2 separate regions of the Homo sapiens genome follow, and region 1 is linked to region 2. The links come from fine-mapping of genetic effects on gene expression. A gene starts in region 2. The other region holds a variant in brackets. All regions are shown on one strand. Distances are between the middles of the regions.

Region 1 (8,322 bases), 480 kb after region 2:
TTTCCTGATAAAAGTTTGACAGATTTAAACCATGGAGGTTTTGTGATCATCTGTTGATTACCTGACTTCCTAATCTCTTGATTACCTGACCTCCCCTCCGTGTTCCAATCAGCAATGGCAATTCAGAGCTAGCTATTTTGCCATGAGGGCCAATGGTGAAAGATGAGACGGAAACAAAATTAATTTTGCTGGCCTGCTGTATTCATAGGACATGCTATCATTAGGTTGGCGCAAAAGTAGTTGTGGTTTCTTCCATTAAAATTGCCATTACTTTTGCACCAACCTAAATCTTTCAGACAAAAGTACCAATACTAGGAAAATAAAAACTATTTTCAAATCTCACATTTTTAAGGTATTATAATATGCCTTTTATTCTAAAGGCCACATCTCTTAAATTACAGAGAGAATTGGTTTATGTTTATTCTATGTATTTATGATGTCAGAAGAAAACTATTTTAAGTCTCTAAAATATTTAGTTGGGGAAAGGGGTTAATAAATCAGTGCACTTTTAGAAGAAGGGACAACATAAGCTTTCCTTCTTGAGTAGCATGAGAATGATGTAAGGAGTTTGAAATGCTTAGGCTAATGTGATAAACAAGAGAACACAGTTAGAGTCTTTTCCGATTAGCTGAAATATTTGTCTGCTTTTTTCCTTTCTGAAATTTCAGCAAGCATTTAATGCCACGGCCGTCGTCAGACATATGAGAAAACTACACCTCGGCAGCAGCCTGGACAGTTCAAATGCAAGTGTTTCGAGCAGCCTCAGTTTGGCCAGCCAAAAAGACTGTGCGTATGTAGCAAAACCAGAATCCCTCAGCTGACACTGAAGACGAGCCTGGGGTGGAGAGGAGGGAGCCGGCATCTGCCGAGCACCTCCTGTTTGCCAGGCGCTTTCTATACTTAATCCCATGTCATGCGACCCTAGGACTTTTTTTAACATGTAATCACTGGGCTGGGTGCAGTGGCTCACGCCTGTAATCCCAACACTTTGGGAGGCTGAGGCAGGAGGACTGTTTGAGTTCAGGAGTTTTAAGACCAGCCTGACCAACATGGTGAAACCCCATCTCTACTAAAATATAAAAATTAGCCGGGTGTGGTGGCGAGCACCTGTAATGTCAGCTACTTGGGAGGCTGAGGCAGGAGAATCACTTGAACCCAGGAAGCGGAGGTTGCAATGAGCTGAGATCACACCACTGCACTCCAGCCTGGGTGACAGATTGAGACTCCCTCTCAAAAAAAAAAAAGAAAAATCATTGAACACTCGTGGAACCCTAGGTATTGCTATTTCCATTTACAGTTGAGGAATCCAGGGCTCAAGTCCTCGCAGCCATGTCTGTCTGGATAAAGGCCTGGACTCTTTCTCATCTCCATCCTTCCCTCTGATTTACCTCTCATTGTACAGTCACTCTTGCGGATTGAGGAAGGGAGAGCAGAGCCTCAGGACAGCCTCCTGCCATTGACTTCCATAATGTATATATTTTGGATGCAGACAATGATAATTTGAGCTCATTTATGTGAAGTGCATTGACTTTGCAATAAAAGTAATAGTATTTCATTGTCCTTCGTCTTTGCATGGGCTATTCCATCATCGAAGGCACACTTACTCTCTCCTTATCTCTCTCCCCAACTGCTCCTCTCTCTGTGGAAATAATCCCGTTTGGCCCTTCCCATGGGTCCTCTCCACATCAGAGCAGTGGCCCTAATCTCCCTAACCATGGAGCAGCCCTGCAGCCTGGTCTCACCCTGGGCATCATGCTCCTTCCCATTTGGCTCAGAAAAGGATTCCCTTCCTCTCTAAGGAATCTTCCCATCTCATTTGGGACCATCCAGCCCTTAAATTTTCCCAAGAAATCTCTGTGAGTGTCCCCTGACATACCATAGCTCCCCTTTCACCCTGAATCTTTTCCACCCTCTGGTCAAAGGGAACCCCACGATGGATCCCTTCTTTACAGATTCATACACTGGCATCGGCAGCAAAGCCCGTCGGGAGCACTCCTTGTATGGCTGTTTGTCCCCATGTCTGAGCACACAGACTCCCTGGGGGCCTGCACCAACAAGCTCAGTGGCGGCTGAGGCCTCTCATATCAAGGCTTTTGATGCCTGCACATCCTCTGGGGGAGGGCTTCAGCGCAGCCTCTGAGGAGCTCCACTAGGCCAGGGACTGCTGAGCTCACACAGGAATAGGTGAACATCTCTATTCTTGCTCTTTTTTCTTTTCTTTTTGCTTTCCTTTCTTTTTCTTTCCCTCCTTTATTTCCCTCCTTCCCTCTCTCTTCTCTCTTTTCTTTTCCCTCCCTGCCTCCCTCCTTCCTTTCCTTCCTTCTTTCCTTCCCTCCCTCCCTTCTTTCTTTCTTTTTCTTTCCTTCTCTTTCTTTTCTTTTTCTTTCTTTCTTTCTCTCTCTTTTTCTTTTCTTTCTTTCTCTCTCTTCTCTTCCTTCCTTCCTTCTTCCTTTCTTTCTTTCTCTTTCTTTCTTTTTCTTTCCCTTCCTTCCTTCCTTTCTTCTTTCTCTCTTTCTTTCCTTCCTTCCTTCCTTCTTTCTTTCTTTCTTTTCTTTCTTTGTCTGTCTGTCTTTCTTTCTTTCTTTCTTTCTTTCTTTCTTTCTTTCTTTCTTTCTTTCTTTCTTTCTTTCTTTCTTTTCTTGTCTTTCTTCTCCTCTCCTCCACTAACCTGCCCTGCCCTGCCCTGCCTTGCCCTGCCTTCCCCTCCCCTCCTCTCTCCTCTCTCCTCTCTCCCCTCTCCCCTCTCCTCTCTCCTCTCTCCCTTCTCCCCTCTCCTTTCTCCTCTCTCCTCTCTCTTCTTCTCTCTTTCTCTCACTCTCTGTCACCCAGACTGGAGTGCAGTGGCACAGTCACGGCTCACTGCAACCTCAACCTCCTAGGCTCAAGTAATCCTCCTGTCTCAGCCTTCTGAGTAGCTGGGACAACAGGCATGTACCACCGTGCGCAGCTAATTTTTGTATTTTTTGTAGACCCAGGGTTGCCCCAGCTGGTCTGGAACTCCTGAGACTCAAGCGATCCACCCACCTTGGCCTCCCAAAGTGTTGAGATTACAGGCGTCAGCCACCATACCCTTATTTCAAAGTGCTCTGCGTCACAAAATGCTTTCTAGCCAAGAGTGTACACAACACACCAACCAAGGGTAGGAAGGTAGTATCATTCTTTATTCCTTCTTAAAATACCTGCTTTACAGAGCTATTATAAGAAGTGGACAATTCGTATGATGACAGTATGTAGTCAACACTAGCCTGGTGCCTGCTACATATTAAGTGCTCAGTACATGGAACCTGTTGTACCACAGTGGTGAAACCATGTTGTTTTCAAACACAAAGCAGTTAAAATTACACCAAAAAAAAGGAGAGGAGAGGTCTAAGAATAAAGCATTTTGAACCCATTGCAAAGGCTTTCCCACAGGTAGGTAAAAATAGTCACA[C/T]GGGTAAAAATTTGGGTCCCCGCAAGTTGGGCGCGGTGGCTCACACCCGTAATCCCAGCACTTTGGGAGGCTGAGGTGGGTGGATCACCTGAGGTCAGGAGTTCGAGACCAGCCTGGCCAACATGGTGAAACCCCATCTCTACTAAAAATACAAAAATTAGCCCGGCGTGGTGGTGAGCCCCTGTAATCCCAGCTACTCGGGAGGCTGAAGCACGAGAATCGCTTGAACCTGGCAGGCAGAGGTTGCAGTGACCCGAGATCGTGCCACTGCACTCCAGCCTGGTGAAAAGAGTGAAACTCCATCTCAAGAAAAAAAAAAAATTGGGCCCCCCCGCCCCCCACCATAAACCCAGCCCCTCTGACACCTGGCAGTGGGAAGCAGGGTGAGAATTTACCTCTGAAACTCTGAAGCCCACTTCTGCTGTTCCCTGCAGGTCTGGCACCTTCCACGCTCTGTAGTTTCATTTCTTCTTCGTCGGGGGTCTCAGGAGTTGGAGCCGAGCGGAGACCCAGGCCCACCACTGTGACGGCAGTGCACTCTGGAAGCAAGTGACTGGCCCTGGAGGTGGGGCCCGGGGTCGGGGCTGGGGAAGGGGAGCCCCAGGGTCGCCAGAGCCGCGAGCCACTCCAGCGAGACCCCACCTTGCATGGTGCCCCTTCCTGCATAGGACTGGAAGACCGAAGTTTTTTTATGGCCATATTTTCTACTGCAATTCTGAAGTGTTCATTTCTCACAAACTGTACTGACTCGAGGGGCGCTGATTTCATAGGATCTGGTGCTGTATATACGAATCTTGCAAAGCTCTAACTGAACGGACCTTCTTATTCCTCTCCCCTAACACCATCGTTTCCACTCTTCTCAGTGTAGGTAACCGTCTATGGTGTGTTTTTTCATTAATGACAAAAAAAAAAAGGTTTCAACTGGATTATTTAAATATTGGTAAATATTGTGCATTAGGGTTTGTTTTTCCTTTTAAGAAGTATGTCCTTTGTATCTCTAAGTTACATGACCTATATCTTTTCCTCTTTAATAGTAGTTTTATGTTAACCTTTAAGAGATTTGTTTTTCCTCAAAGGAGAATTTAAAGGTATTTTTTAAAATTCTAATAAGAGGATCAGCCGGGTGCAATGACTCATGCCTGTAATCCCAGCACGTTGGGAGGCCAAGTCGGGCGGATCACAAGGTCAGGAGATCAAGGCCATCCTGGCCAACATGGTGAAACCCCACGTCTACTAAAAATACAAAAAATTAGCCGGGCGTGGTGGCACACACCTGTAGTCCCGGCTACTCGGGAGGCTGAGGCAGGAGAATTGCTTGAACCCGGGAGACGGAGGTTGCAGTGAGCTGAGATCGTGCCACTGCACTCCAGCCTGGGTGACAGAGCAAGACTCTGTCTCAAAAAAAAAAAAAAAAATTCTAACAAGAGGATCATGAATCTGTCTCCAAGGCTAAGAGTGCCCTTCACCTCTACTCCTTCTGTTTCTCTCCCCTTCCCCAGGAGGAGGGGCCCCTCAGTTCTGCGAGGCTCTCTTCTCTGCGGGGGACTTTGGTAGAGAATCTGCACAGAGCCTTTGCTGGCAACCCATCCAGCAGAACCCACACCCACCAGAGACCCTAGAGGCCTCTTGCCATCAGCAACCAGAAATAAGCCTGCTCCCCCGAGACGCAGGGCTCAGCTTCACAGGCCAGACTTGCTGTGAGTGAGATGCCCACACTGCAGAGATGCAGGACCCTCCCTTGCAAAAGGAACCAGCTGCCATGTTGCTGAAAGTGGGCCCACACACAACCCTCATTTCTCACGAGAGCTAACAGATGAAAGCTCAGCTATGCAGTGTTAAAATTCATCTCTTTCTCTGTGGTTTTTAAAAAAATGCATTTCTAATCTTACACTTCACGTGGCCTCCAACACAAAGTTCTTTCTCCACATTTTTACCCTCTTCTCACATGAATGTTTTCCAAGGGAAGGAAGGGAGGGAAGCAGCCTTGGGAAAGGATCCATTTCTGGTGGTAAGGAGAGGGGGCCCTGCCAGGCTAATGGGACTTCAGCCACCACAGAGATGACCAAAGACCACCTCCGCCAGGCCCAGCCAGTGCTTGCAGCCCTCCCATTGGTCAGGGGAGTCTAAAATCAAAGATACATGGTGGTAGGGTCACCAAACGTCCCATTTGCCCGAGACTGAAGGATTTCTCAGGCTGTGGACATTTAATGCCAAAACCAGGAATATCCGGGGCAAAGCAGGCTGTGTTGTTCGCCTTTGTGGAGCCAGGCAGTGTGTGGCCCAGGGAAAGCTGCGTTTCATGGAGGCTTCCAGGAGGCTGCCCTGTAAAGCCAGGCAGGTGGCTTCAAGTGCCATTCCTGCAAGTGCCCCTGCTTCAGCTCTCAGGCCCATCCAATGCCTCGAGCCCACGGGGGTGTCCCGGCAGGTCTGCGTCATCACGACCCAGTAACGCTGCTGGCTGTGTCCTCATGCCCTCTTCCTCTGGCTGGCCAGTCATGGGAAGTCCTGTTGGTTGAGTCATCTTTGTCACTTCTACACCTTTGAGTATGTACAGGCTGAATGTTGAGTGATGCCCCCCCACCCTCTCAATAAACACACACACACACACACACACACACACACACACACACAATGTTATTAGGCACAGCAGCTCCATCCTGCTCCCTGAGAATGGCAGTGCAGGCACAGAGAAGAGCAGTTGGGAAGACAGGCAGCTGGTCTACCCTGTCCCCGCACACTTCACAGGCACTCCACTGCTTGGCAGGAATTCTGCATGGCATCTGCCACGCATGCTCACAGGGTGAAAAATCAAGCTGTCACTCTGCAAAATCTAAAAACCCTGGAAAGGTCTATAAGATGACATTAGACCCAGTTAAGAAGCAAGTGTCACCTGAGTTGGCCATGCAATGAATGAATATTATAAGCAGTATTGGAGAACTAGGCGGTTGCTTACTAAGAAGTGTCTTGGAAACATTCGAGTTCATACAGTGCATGACAAAGTAATAGAAGGCTGCAAGCGCTGAAAATGCACCCGAATCTGGTACCTAGGATGAGTACATGAATAGTGATGAATAGCCCTTTGTGCTGTGTGCTATATACAACCATTTGCATTCAGAAAGCAGCATTTGAAGCTGAGTTCCATTACTGGTGATTGAAGTATTTTCAGGAGCAGATACATGTGGTGCATGTTATATGCACTTAGTTTGAAAGTATCCCTCACCCAAAAAGTGCAGAACCTCTGAAAGGTGAGCCGTGGTGCAGGTGCCCCCCTCGCTGTTCGGGTCAGTTCTTGGCCATGCTTGGCCTGTCACACGCCGGGTCTCAACAACATCGTGCGAGGAGACAGTGACTGGTTTCAGCCCAAGAGTCAACTGTTGAGCATGACATCAGGAAGCCTGTACTGTCCTGATCCCACCAGGCTTGGGTTAATTTCCTATTGCTTCAGAGAAAGAGAGGCGCTCTTGTGCTTTTGAGAGAGCTCTCATGTTAAAAAGAGGTTGTCTTTGCACTGCGCTTGGTATGATTTGTTTTCTTATAAAACAGGAAGAGAACCTAGAATGTGCCTTTCGTGAAGGTCTGACAAATGGGGTCTCAGAGTCCTAGGACCCGCACCAAGGTCAGAGTCCACCTGTAGAGGCTGAGCATTTCTACATGCACCCAGGGTGCTGGGCTGAGGCTAAGGGTGGACGCGTAGACCCCATCACAGGCTTCCTTCCTGAGCCCAAGTCCCCCATTTGGTCACTATCCCTTCTCAGAGCAAGTGGATTCTCTTTTCCTCACTTGGAGTATTCAATGTTGAAGTAGTGGCCTGGAGTGGCCTTTCCCTCAGCTGCCTGTCTGGGCTCCCTGGCTTCCCGGATCTTCATCTCATACGTGAGGCAATAGGAGGAGTTTCTATTCATTGAGACAAACAGTGAGCGGGCACCAACAGGCCAGCAGCTTGGCCCTTTTCACAGAGGTGGCCTTGGAGTCTGGAGTCTGGGCAGCTGTCTGCCTCTCTACGGCTCTGCTTCCCAGCGGGCACACGGGTCCGGAGCCTCAGAATGAAGTGGTGCAGAGGCGCAGGGCACACCTAGGAGAAGCTCAATGACCACCAAAGCCCTTGAGGAGAGACGGGGTTTGCTGTGTTAGAGAAATGGCAACCCCCAGGACCATGCACGGCTCTGGCAGTGCACAGTGGCTGATTTTCACCAGTTCCTCCTACCCCTGCCTCTGTCGGAGACTAGAAAACATTCTACCCCTTCAGGTCTTCTTTTAAAAGAAAAGAGCTATGGCAAAGCGTGCCATACAAAGTTAAAAAAAGGAAGAGTGGCTTTGCGTTCTTGACCATGGCCACAATTCTGGTCACTTCTAGCATCTGACCTTGAGAACGGTGTAGAGTCTCTGAGCCACCGCTGGCCTTTGAGAGAGTCTCACTCTCCAGCTAGCTCTTTGTGTAGTGTCCAGGGCCCCGGCAGTCAGGATAGAGCGAGCAAAAGAAGATGGACAGTGGACAGGGCGCAGTGGCTCACGCCTGTAATCCCAGCGCTTTGGGAGAGCGAGGCGGGCAGATCACAAGGTCAAGAGATCAAGACCATTCTGGCCAACATGGTGAAACCCTGTTTCTACTAAAAATACAAAAATTAGCTGGGCATGGTGGTGCGTGCCTGTAATCCCAGCTACTCGGGAGGCTGAGGCAGGAGAATCGCTTGAACCCGGGAGGCAGAGGTTGCAGTGAGCCGAGATCGTGCCACTGCACTCCAGCCTGGGTGACAGAGCAAGACTCCGTCTCAAAAAAGATGGCCATGCTGGCCAAGGCTGGGCTCATAGGAAATATCTGTAGTAGGATGAAAGGAATCTGGCCTAGGGAGCCCCGGACTCGGTTTACCTACCCCGTACTCATCCCACTCATC
Region 2 (8,259 bases):
GCCAGCTCCGCCTCCCGGGTTCACGCCATTCTCCCGCCTCAGCCTCCTGAGTAGCTGGGACTACAGGCACCTGCCACCACGCCCGGCTAATTTTTTTGTATTCTTTTTTTTTTTAGTAGAGACAGGGTTTCACCGTGTTAGCCAGGATGGTCTCGATCTTCTGACCTCATGATCCACCTACCTTGGCCTCCCAAAATGCTGGGATTACAGGCGTGAGCCACTGCGCCCGGCCAATTTTTCCATTTTTAGTAGAGACGGGGTTTCACCATGTTGGCCAGGCTGGTCCTGAACTCCTGAGTAGCTGGGATTACGTCTCTACTAAAAATACGAAAAGTTAGCCAGGTGTGGTGGCACGCACCTGTAGTCCCAGCTACTCAGGAGGCTGAGGCAGAATAATTGCTTGAACCCGGGAGGTGGAGGTTGCAGTGAGCTGAGATCACGCCACTGCACTGCAGCCTGGGCGACAGAGCGAGACTCTGGAAAAAAAAAAGTTTGTGTCTTGGCCAGGTGCAGTTTCTCACCCCTGTAACCCCAGCACTTTGGGGAGTTGAGGTGGGCAGATCCCTTCAGGTCAGGAGTTTGAGACCAGCCTGGCCAAAATGGAGAAACCCCATCTCTACTGAAAGTAGAAAAATTAGTCAGTTATGGTGGTACGTGTCTGTAGTCTCAGCTACTCGGGAGGCTGAGGCAGGAGAATCGCTTGAACCTGGGTGGTGGAGGTTACAGTGAGCTGAGATCACCGCACTCTACCGTGGCGACAGAGCAAGAATTTGTCTTAAAAAAAAAAAAAAGAAAATAAAGAAAAAAAAGAAGTATGCTTTTTCTTGAGGACCTCGTCCAGCTTAGAATAGCTTGATAATGCCAAATGAACATCATTACAGAAAGTCTGGAAAAGAAATAAAGCTCCCTACAGCAGTTCCACCAGTACAACAAATACCAAATAGCGGTCTTAACTCGATTTCATTTCTTTCTTTTTTTTTTTTTTTGAACAGAATATCACTCTGTTGACCAGGCTGGAGTGCAGTGGCATGATCTCGGCTCACTGCAACCTCTGCCTCCTGGGTTCAAGTGATTCTCCTGCCTCAGCCTCCTGAGTAGCTGGGATACAGGCGCACACCACCACGCCCGGCTAATTTTTGTAGTTTTAGCAGAGACAGGGTTTCACCATGTTGGCCGGGCTGGTCTCATACTCCTGATCTTAGGTGATCCGCCTGCCTCTGCCTCTTAAAGTGCTGGCATTTTACAGGCGTGAGCTGCCACGCCTGGCCTCAATTTCATTTCTTTATCCATTCGACACACATTTACAGATCAGTCAGTATGGGTAGGTTACCGTGTCAGGTGCTGGGAAACAGTGGCGAGAAAGTTAACAGGTGCCTTGCTCTCATGGAGCTTATAGCCTGGTAGGAAAAGTCACGGCCACAGGCCACGTGGAAGTTCTCATTTGCTTTCCCTTCATCTTTACTGTTCCTGTAAAATTGCCTTCTTTCTTTTTTTCTAATGGTTATTTTTATAGATTTAGGGGTACAAGTGCAGTTTTGTTACATGGATATATTGCGTAGTGGTGAGGTCTGGGCTTTTAGCTTAACCATCACCAGAATAGGGTACACCATGCCCATTAGTTAATTTCTCATCCCTTCCCCTACCCCACTCCAATGTCATTATTCCACACTCTCTGTCCACATATACACATTATTTAGCTCCCACTTCTTCTCCTTTTTTTTTTTTTGAGATGGAGTCTTGCTCTGTCGCCAGGCTGGAGTGCAATGGTGCAATCTTCGCTCACTGCAACCTCCTAGGTTACAGTGATTCTCCTGCCTCAGCCTCCTGAGTAGCTGGGATTACAGGCATGTGCCACCATGCCTGGCTAATTTTTATTTTTAATAGAGTTTCACCATGTTGGCCAGGCTGGTCTTGAACTCCTGACCTCAGGTGATCCACTGGCCTAGGCCTCCCAAAGTGCTGGGATTACAGGCGTGAGCCACCATGCCTAGCCTTAGCTCTCACTTCTAAGTGAGAACATGTGGTATTTGACTTTCTGTTTCTGAGTTATTTCACCTAAGATAATGGCCTTCAGTTCCAACTGCGTTGCTGCAAAAGACATGATTTCATTCTTTTTTATGGCCGGGTAGTAGAGAATCAGCACTTCTTCAGCTGTGGGGATAATAGCTGAGAATGAGAATTGTTTTCATGAGCTCTGGCGGCTGTTCCTGAGGCCAGGCAGCAAGGGCAACATAGCAGAGAACCAAATAGGAAAAGAGGAGAAGGAAACACAGTGGGAGGAAGGGAAGGAGAAAGAAAGGACAAGAAGATGCTGACTGTAGGCATGAGAAAGCGACAGTTGGGATCTTAGTTGACTTATGCCCTGGTTCCCACTGTTTGTATTATCTAACCTTTGGCACAAGTAAAATACATGATAGTTTTTCAAATGTTTCTTATTGAAGGGGATGCTGTTTGCCTTGAACTTTGGTAATGTGCCTCAAGTATAAGAGAGGTTCCTTAGTAATTCTTCTCACCCATCCGTGTTGGAAATTGGGTTTGTGGATTTATTCTACATCTAACCGGCAAGTAAATCCCCTCTTTGCTCTTCTCAGTTTGGAAAACCTTAAGCTAACCGTCTTTGAAAGATGGAAACTAGCATGGAGGTCCCAGGAATGGGGATGCCAGGGTGTCGTCTGACCTCTTTAGGGTCAGAGTAGGGGCTGAGGGAGAGCAGCTGGGCTGCCTCCACTTCAGCCAGAGTCAGAACTAGGCACAAGGTGCTGGATGAAGTTTCCTATTCAGGGAGCAGATTTTTTTTTTCCTTTTACAGTGAAATTGGAACAGTCCTGGGAAAATGGGACAGGTGTCCCCAGTCAAGAGACAGAGCTGTTTACCCAACTACGAGGAGAGGCCCTGAGGGAGGCGAAGTGTTGATACCAAGAAATCTAAAATTTTCCGATCAAGAGGTCGCCCCTGCAGGTTGGGGACCAGGGAACTGGAGCACGTGGGCTGCCCTCTGACAGGTGGACACCAGGAGTGGGGCGGGCAGGCCAAAGTACAGCTGGGAGATGGGAGTCCGGAGGGAATTCTCTGGGTTAGTTTTGGCAGTCCATAGGAAAGCAGGTGCCTGCCCCGCAACCCGGACACCCTACTAAGCCAGCCGCGGGTGGGCTCCTCCTTCGAGGGGACTGCGGGGCAGACGATCACTTCTTTCCACTGAGTCTCTGGGAGGAGACAGGGAGATGCCAGAAGGGGCCAAGCGTGAGCCAGGGCAACCAGGCCGGCCAGGCCCGCCGGCCGCTCCAGCCCAGCACCAGGGCGCCCGCGCGGCTGCCAAACACCCCCGGGAGTTTTGCTCGCAAAGGGACCACGAGGCAGCTGCTGGCGCGTCCTGCGCGTACCCGCCCAGAGGCTCCCCGGCTTGCTCCTCGCGGGTCTGTCCCGAAACTGACGTGAAACCGATTTGGTGCAATGCGAATGAGCTCCCGCCCGCCTCCGCCTCCATCCCAGCCGCCGCCGCCGCCCGTCGCCATAACAACCGGCCCCCACCCCCCCCACCCCACGCCTTGCCCCTCGGGTCCCCCGGGCCACAGGCCACAGCGCGGGAAGGCGCCCCGCCCTCGGCGCCCCGCATCCGGCCGCCGCGCACCCCCGCCCGCCCGGCGCTTCCGAGCCACGCAGAGGCGCCCCCTCCCGCCGGAGACGGGAAAGCCCCGGCGCCCCCAGACTGGGCTCCGTTTCCAGCTCCCGGAGGGGCTGGGGCTCTCCCGCGTGCGCCCCGCACCTGCCGGGGGCCCGTACCCGCCCTCGCCGGGGCTCCAGGGGGCACGACGGCCGTGGCCCGGCGCTCTTGGGAGGGGAGCGGGACATCCCCGAAGGCGGCGCGCTGGAGGCGGGGAGCGGCCGGGGCGCACGGAGAGGGCGGGGAGCCCGCGGGAGGGGGAGGAGGGGGAGGAGGGGGAGGAGGCGCGAGGTGGGGGGGAGCGCGGCGGGCGGCAGGGAGGGAGCGGGAGGGAGGCAAGAAAGTAGCAGAAAGTGAGGCTGGCAGGCGGCGGCAAAGGAGCCGGCGCGCGGCGGCGGCAGGAAGTCTGTGCCCGAGAACAGCAGAAATAAGAGCCAGGGAGGGACCGCGGCCGCGGCGGCGGCGGCGAGAGCGAAAGAGGAAACTGCAGAGGAGGAAGCTGCGCCGCAGCCCGAGCCGCCCGGCATCCCCGCCGCCTCTGCGCCCGCGCCGCGCCCCCGGCGCCCCCTCCCCAGCGCGCCCCCGGCCGCTCCTCCGCGCCGCGCTCGTCGGCCATGGCCCGGGAGAACGGCGAGAGCAGCTCCTCCTGGAAAAAGCAAGCTGAAGACATCAAGAAGATCTTCGAGTTCAAAGAGACCCTCGGAACGTAAGTGGGGACCGGGGAGGCGAGGGTGGAGGTGGCCGCGGCAGGGGCTGCACGGGCAGCTCCAGCTGCCGCCGCCGCCACTACCGCGGCAGAAACCCAGCCTGTCACCGCGTCCTCATTGTCCCGTTCTCGGCGCTGCGGAGCCCCCCCGAGCGCGCCCGACGCGTGGGCCTGCGACCCCCGGGTGGGCGCCGTTCCCGGGAGGGGGAGGGGGCAGCGCCGGGCTGTCAGGGAGCAGCCCACGCGGGCGCGCGACTTCCCACTTCTCCTGCCACCGCCGCCCTCTCCGCTGCCTTCTCCCCACGCGTGACTGTGGGCTGAGCATGGTGGGGATGGCTGTTTACCGGCTGTGTGCGTTTACTCGCCGTGTGCATGGGCGCACCGCGTTGGCGAGACGTGGTCACGAGAAGATCAGCCTCCAGTCGTTCCCATTTCTGTCCTTACATCATGTATTTCTATGGAATTGGCATCTGCACGTACGAGGTGTAGGCAAGACTTTGGGTGGCCACGCGAGGATGGAAGGGAAGGGCTTCGCAGTGCTCAGGGTCACACGTGGGCAGAGCCTCACCGGAGGGTCTGTGCATTTCACGCGGGCTCGGCCGCACGCGCCGGGGAGCGCGTCTCCAAGGGAGGGTCTGTGCGCGTCGCTGCGCGGGCGGTGCTCTCTCCGGGCTGCATCGAGTCCCATGCTGATGGCTGTGTCTCAAGAAAGCAGAAATAATCCGAAGTCGATGGCAGGAACGCTCCAAGCATGTGCTGCTCAGCTCAGCTGCTGTTCCCTTTCTGCCCAGGAGTTGGGTCTTGTTTGTTTTGTTTCGGAGCGGCTCAGAATAGGTGGGGAGGCTGATAGTGAAAGAGAATCAGGACCTGCCGAATGAGTCTGAAGTTCAAGTTATTTCCTTCCCTCACACAATCAGTATTTGCTCTGCATCAGTATCTGTCAGTGTGGATTCACGCACAGGTGTGCAGTCAGAAATGCCCATTTTGCAGGGGTTCATGGAGGTGTTGATTAGGCTGGGAAGAGAAAGGGGAGCTATTTCATGGGATAAATCAGTGCGTTGTTGGGTGCCCTTTCTTTCCTTCCTCCTTTTTTTCCGTGTGCTTGTTTTTGTGCTTGGTTTCTTTTTTCCAGCACCACATTACCCAGCTTGTCTTCACCTCCAGGCTCGGCGTCTGCTGCTGTTCAGTCATTTCCCCTCACCCCCACGCAGATCTGCAGGGGGTCCCCCGGAGAGAAGTTGTGAGGGTGGCTTTCCCAGTCCTGCTTCTGATTCCCGGGAAGGCGCACGCTGAGGACTAGAGTGGGGTCTCCCTGCTGTGGTTGTTGCCTTTCAGGGAGGGCACCTATTTGCTATCTTTGTTGGAATGAAAACAGAAAAAGATGTAGCTTTTTAATAAATAGGGGTTTGGGGTTGCCTCTTAGTGCAGCCAGGTAAGGGGTTAGTTTGGGTCAAAACTTTTGAAAATTGCCACTGAGGTTTATTCGGGTTTGGGGTTGTGATTCTGAGATGCTCAAGTTACTGAGAGACAAGAAAGCATGGCCTTTGCTTGTCATCCAGGACCCGCACTGTGGCCGCCAATGAGGAGATGGGAGAGCATGGGGACCCACCCTGTGTGAATGCTTTCCTGTCCGTGGCTTGTTCCCACCCGAGCCCCCCACACTGGCTTCCTGCCTGTAGCCTCCGGGTGACTGATGCCCTGTCCCCTGACTGACTCGTGCAGCTGCACCTCTGCAGTGGCGGGGCTGCTGAGGCTCCAAGCTGTGGCTCCTGCTGGAGCATGGTGTTTGGAGATGACTGTGGGTGGTTTCCACCTTGGGGAAAAATGGGGATTTGCCCTCTGGTGCCAGAGCGCTTCTCTGGCAGAACAGCCTCTTGGACTCCAGCCATGTTCCCTGTGAGCTTTGGGAATGGGTCTCTCTTAGGGTCCTAAAGCATTGCCTTCTGCCTGGGATGGAATTCTTTGCAAAGGAGCTTCCCACTGTAGCACTGGCATTGGACCTAGAAGAATGATAGAAACAGTGTGATGATCAAGATGTTTTTACTCCACATAATAATCATGGTAATCATAGGTGGTATTCTGAAATGTATACCCAGGATCAGGTATTATTCTACGTGCCTTATGTGTATTAACTCATTTAAATCTCAGAGTAACCTTATGAGGTAGGTATTTACCATTACACCCAATTTGCAGATGAGAAAACTAAGGCAGCAGAGATAATTATGTGAGCTACCAAACCTTAGCTAACTATTAAGTGGCGGAGCTGGTATTCACAGATAGGCAGAGCAACTTTTGATTGTCCATACAGGGTTGACACACTTTGTAGATCCTGTAATGGCCAATGCTTAGTCAATAATTTGACTTAACTTTAGTATTTGGAACGCGAACTTTAATATTAATGTAAAGAAAACATAATGGGCTGGGCGTGGTGGCTCACACCTGTAATCCCAACACTTTGGGAGGCTGAGGCGAGCTGATCACTTAAGTCAGGAGTTCGAGACCAGCCTGGCCAACATGGTGAAACCCTGTTGCTACTAACAATAACAAAATTAGCCGGGTGTGGTGGTGTGTGCCTATAATTCCAGCTACTCGGGAGGCTGAGGCAGGAGAATCGCTTGAACTGGGGAGGCAGAGATTTCAGTGAGTTGAGATTGCGCCACTGCCCTCCAGCCTGGGCCACAGAGTGAGACTCGGTCTCAAAAAAATAAAATAAAATAAATGAGAAAACATAATGATGGCAATAATGATAGCATAATGTTATCTAAACTTGGAAAACTTGGAAGCATTTCAGAGCTTTTGGATTGTCGTCCTTTTGCTTCTGTGGACTTTCTTTTTTTTTTTTTTGAGACGGAGTCTCACTCTGTTGCCCAGGCTGGAGTGCAGTGGCGCAATCTCGGCTCACTGCAAGCTCTGCCTCATGGGTTCACGCCATTCTCCTGTCTCAGCCTCCCGAGTAACTGGGACTACAGACGCCCGCCGCCATGCCTGGCTAATTTTTTTGTATTTTTAGTAGAGACGGGGTTTCACCGTGTTAGCCAGGATGGTCTCGATCTCCTGACCTCATGATCCGCCTGCCTCGGCCTCCCAAAGTGCTGGGATTACAGGCGTGAGCTACTGCGCCCAGCCGCCTCTGTGTACTTTCTAGAAGTGGTCCCCAGTTCAAGATGCCTGCTCCACCCTGGGCCATGACCGGTGACTCTGGCCCGAGTCTTAATGTGGAGTTGACTTCTGGTCCCTTCAGTGGGGATTTTGAGTCTGGGCCCTTCTCTTGTTTTGAATGAAATCTAACACAAATGAAAGGCATCGACAATTAACCACTGGCATTCATTTCCAAAGTATGCCGCAGTTCCAGTCACTTTGTTTGCCCTACTTTCTCCCTACGTCTTTAAGATACGAAGGCAGGAAAGCCTTGTAAGAAGCAGGGCTGTCAGCTCACAATGTTCACATGTATTTAAAATAAAGCATTGCAAAGGCTGGAGGAGCACTCATTTTGCCAGACTTTGTAATCTGATATCCACTGCCTTATCCAGGTATCTCACCTCATGGAGCCGAGCATTTACTGTTGGAAGCTAAGGGGTCAAGGCGGTTAGGCTGTATGGTTAGAGGGACCTTGCTGGAGAGTGGGGGCCGAATGGGAGTGAAGGTTGGCCCAGGAGGGTGGAAAATGAGATTGAGGAAGCAAAGAGCAGCATAAGAGAAAGGACTGGGCTTTGTGGTCTGGCCTGGGTTGTCTGATGCACCTCTGAGTCAGGTCTCAGGGACAAACCTTTCAACCTGTGCGCTTCAGTGCAGCCTCCTACAAAAGGGAATCCCAGAACATAACCATATCTCTGAATAAGGTGGTGAGACTTAATTATTGTCTATTAATCAACATGTTTTCAGACCCTTGGCA

Alleles and levels. Alleles are on the strand shown, and positions count from the first base shown. SD is a standard deviation of normalised expression in the study named.
With allele C in place of T in region 1, the expression in monocytes after interferon gamma of the gene that starts at base 4,004 in region 2 is higher (moderate effect, 0.41 SD a copy in Fairfax 2014).

The links. PIP is the estimated chance that this variant, and not a neighbour inherited with it, causes the effect.
Region 1: its variant is fine-mapped to the expression of CAMK1D in monocytes after interferon gamma (Fairfax 2014, PIP 0.90).

Annotation. Positions count from the first base shown.
Region 1 is chr10:12,824,905-12,833,226 of GRCh38, forward strand. CAMK1D (calcium/calmodulin dependent protein kinase ID) reads left to right here. Exons shown (of 11, transcript NM_153498.4): 10 at 669-786; 11 at 3,865-8,322. The coding sequence ends at 3,983. Among named protein-coding and RNA genes, the nearest start is that of MIR548Q, 100 kb to the left of the region's middle. The variant C/T (reference allele first, on the strand shown) is at 3,431.
Region 2 is chr10:12,345,544-12,353,802 of GRCh38, forward strand. CAMK1D (calcium/calmodulin dependent protein kinase ID) reads left to right here and starts at 4,004. Exons shown (of 11, transcript NM_153498.4): 1 at 4,004-4,367. The coding sequence starts at 4,276. RefSeq lists silencers at 3,163-3,422, 3,463-4,022, 4,193-4,282 and enhancers at 4,319-4,818, 4,993-5,152.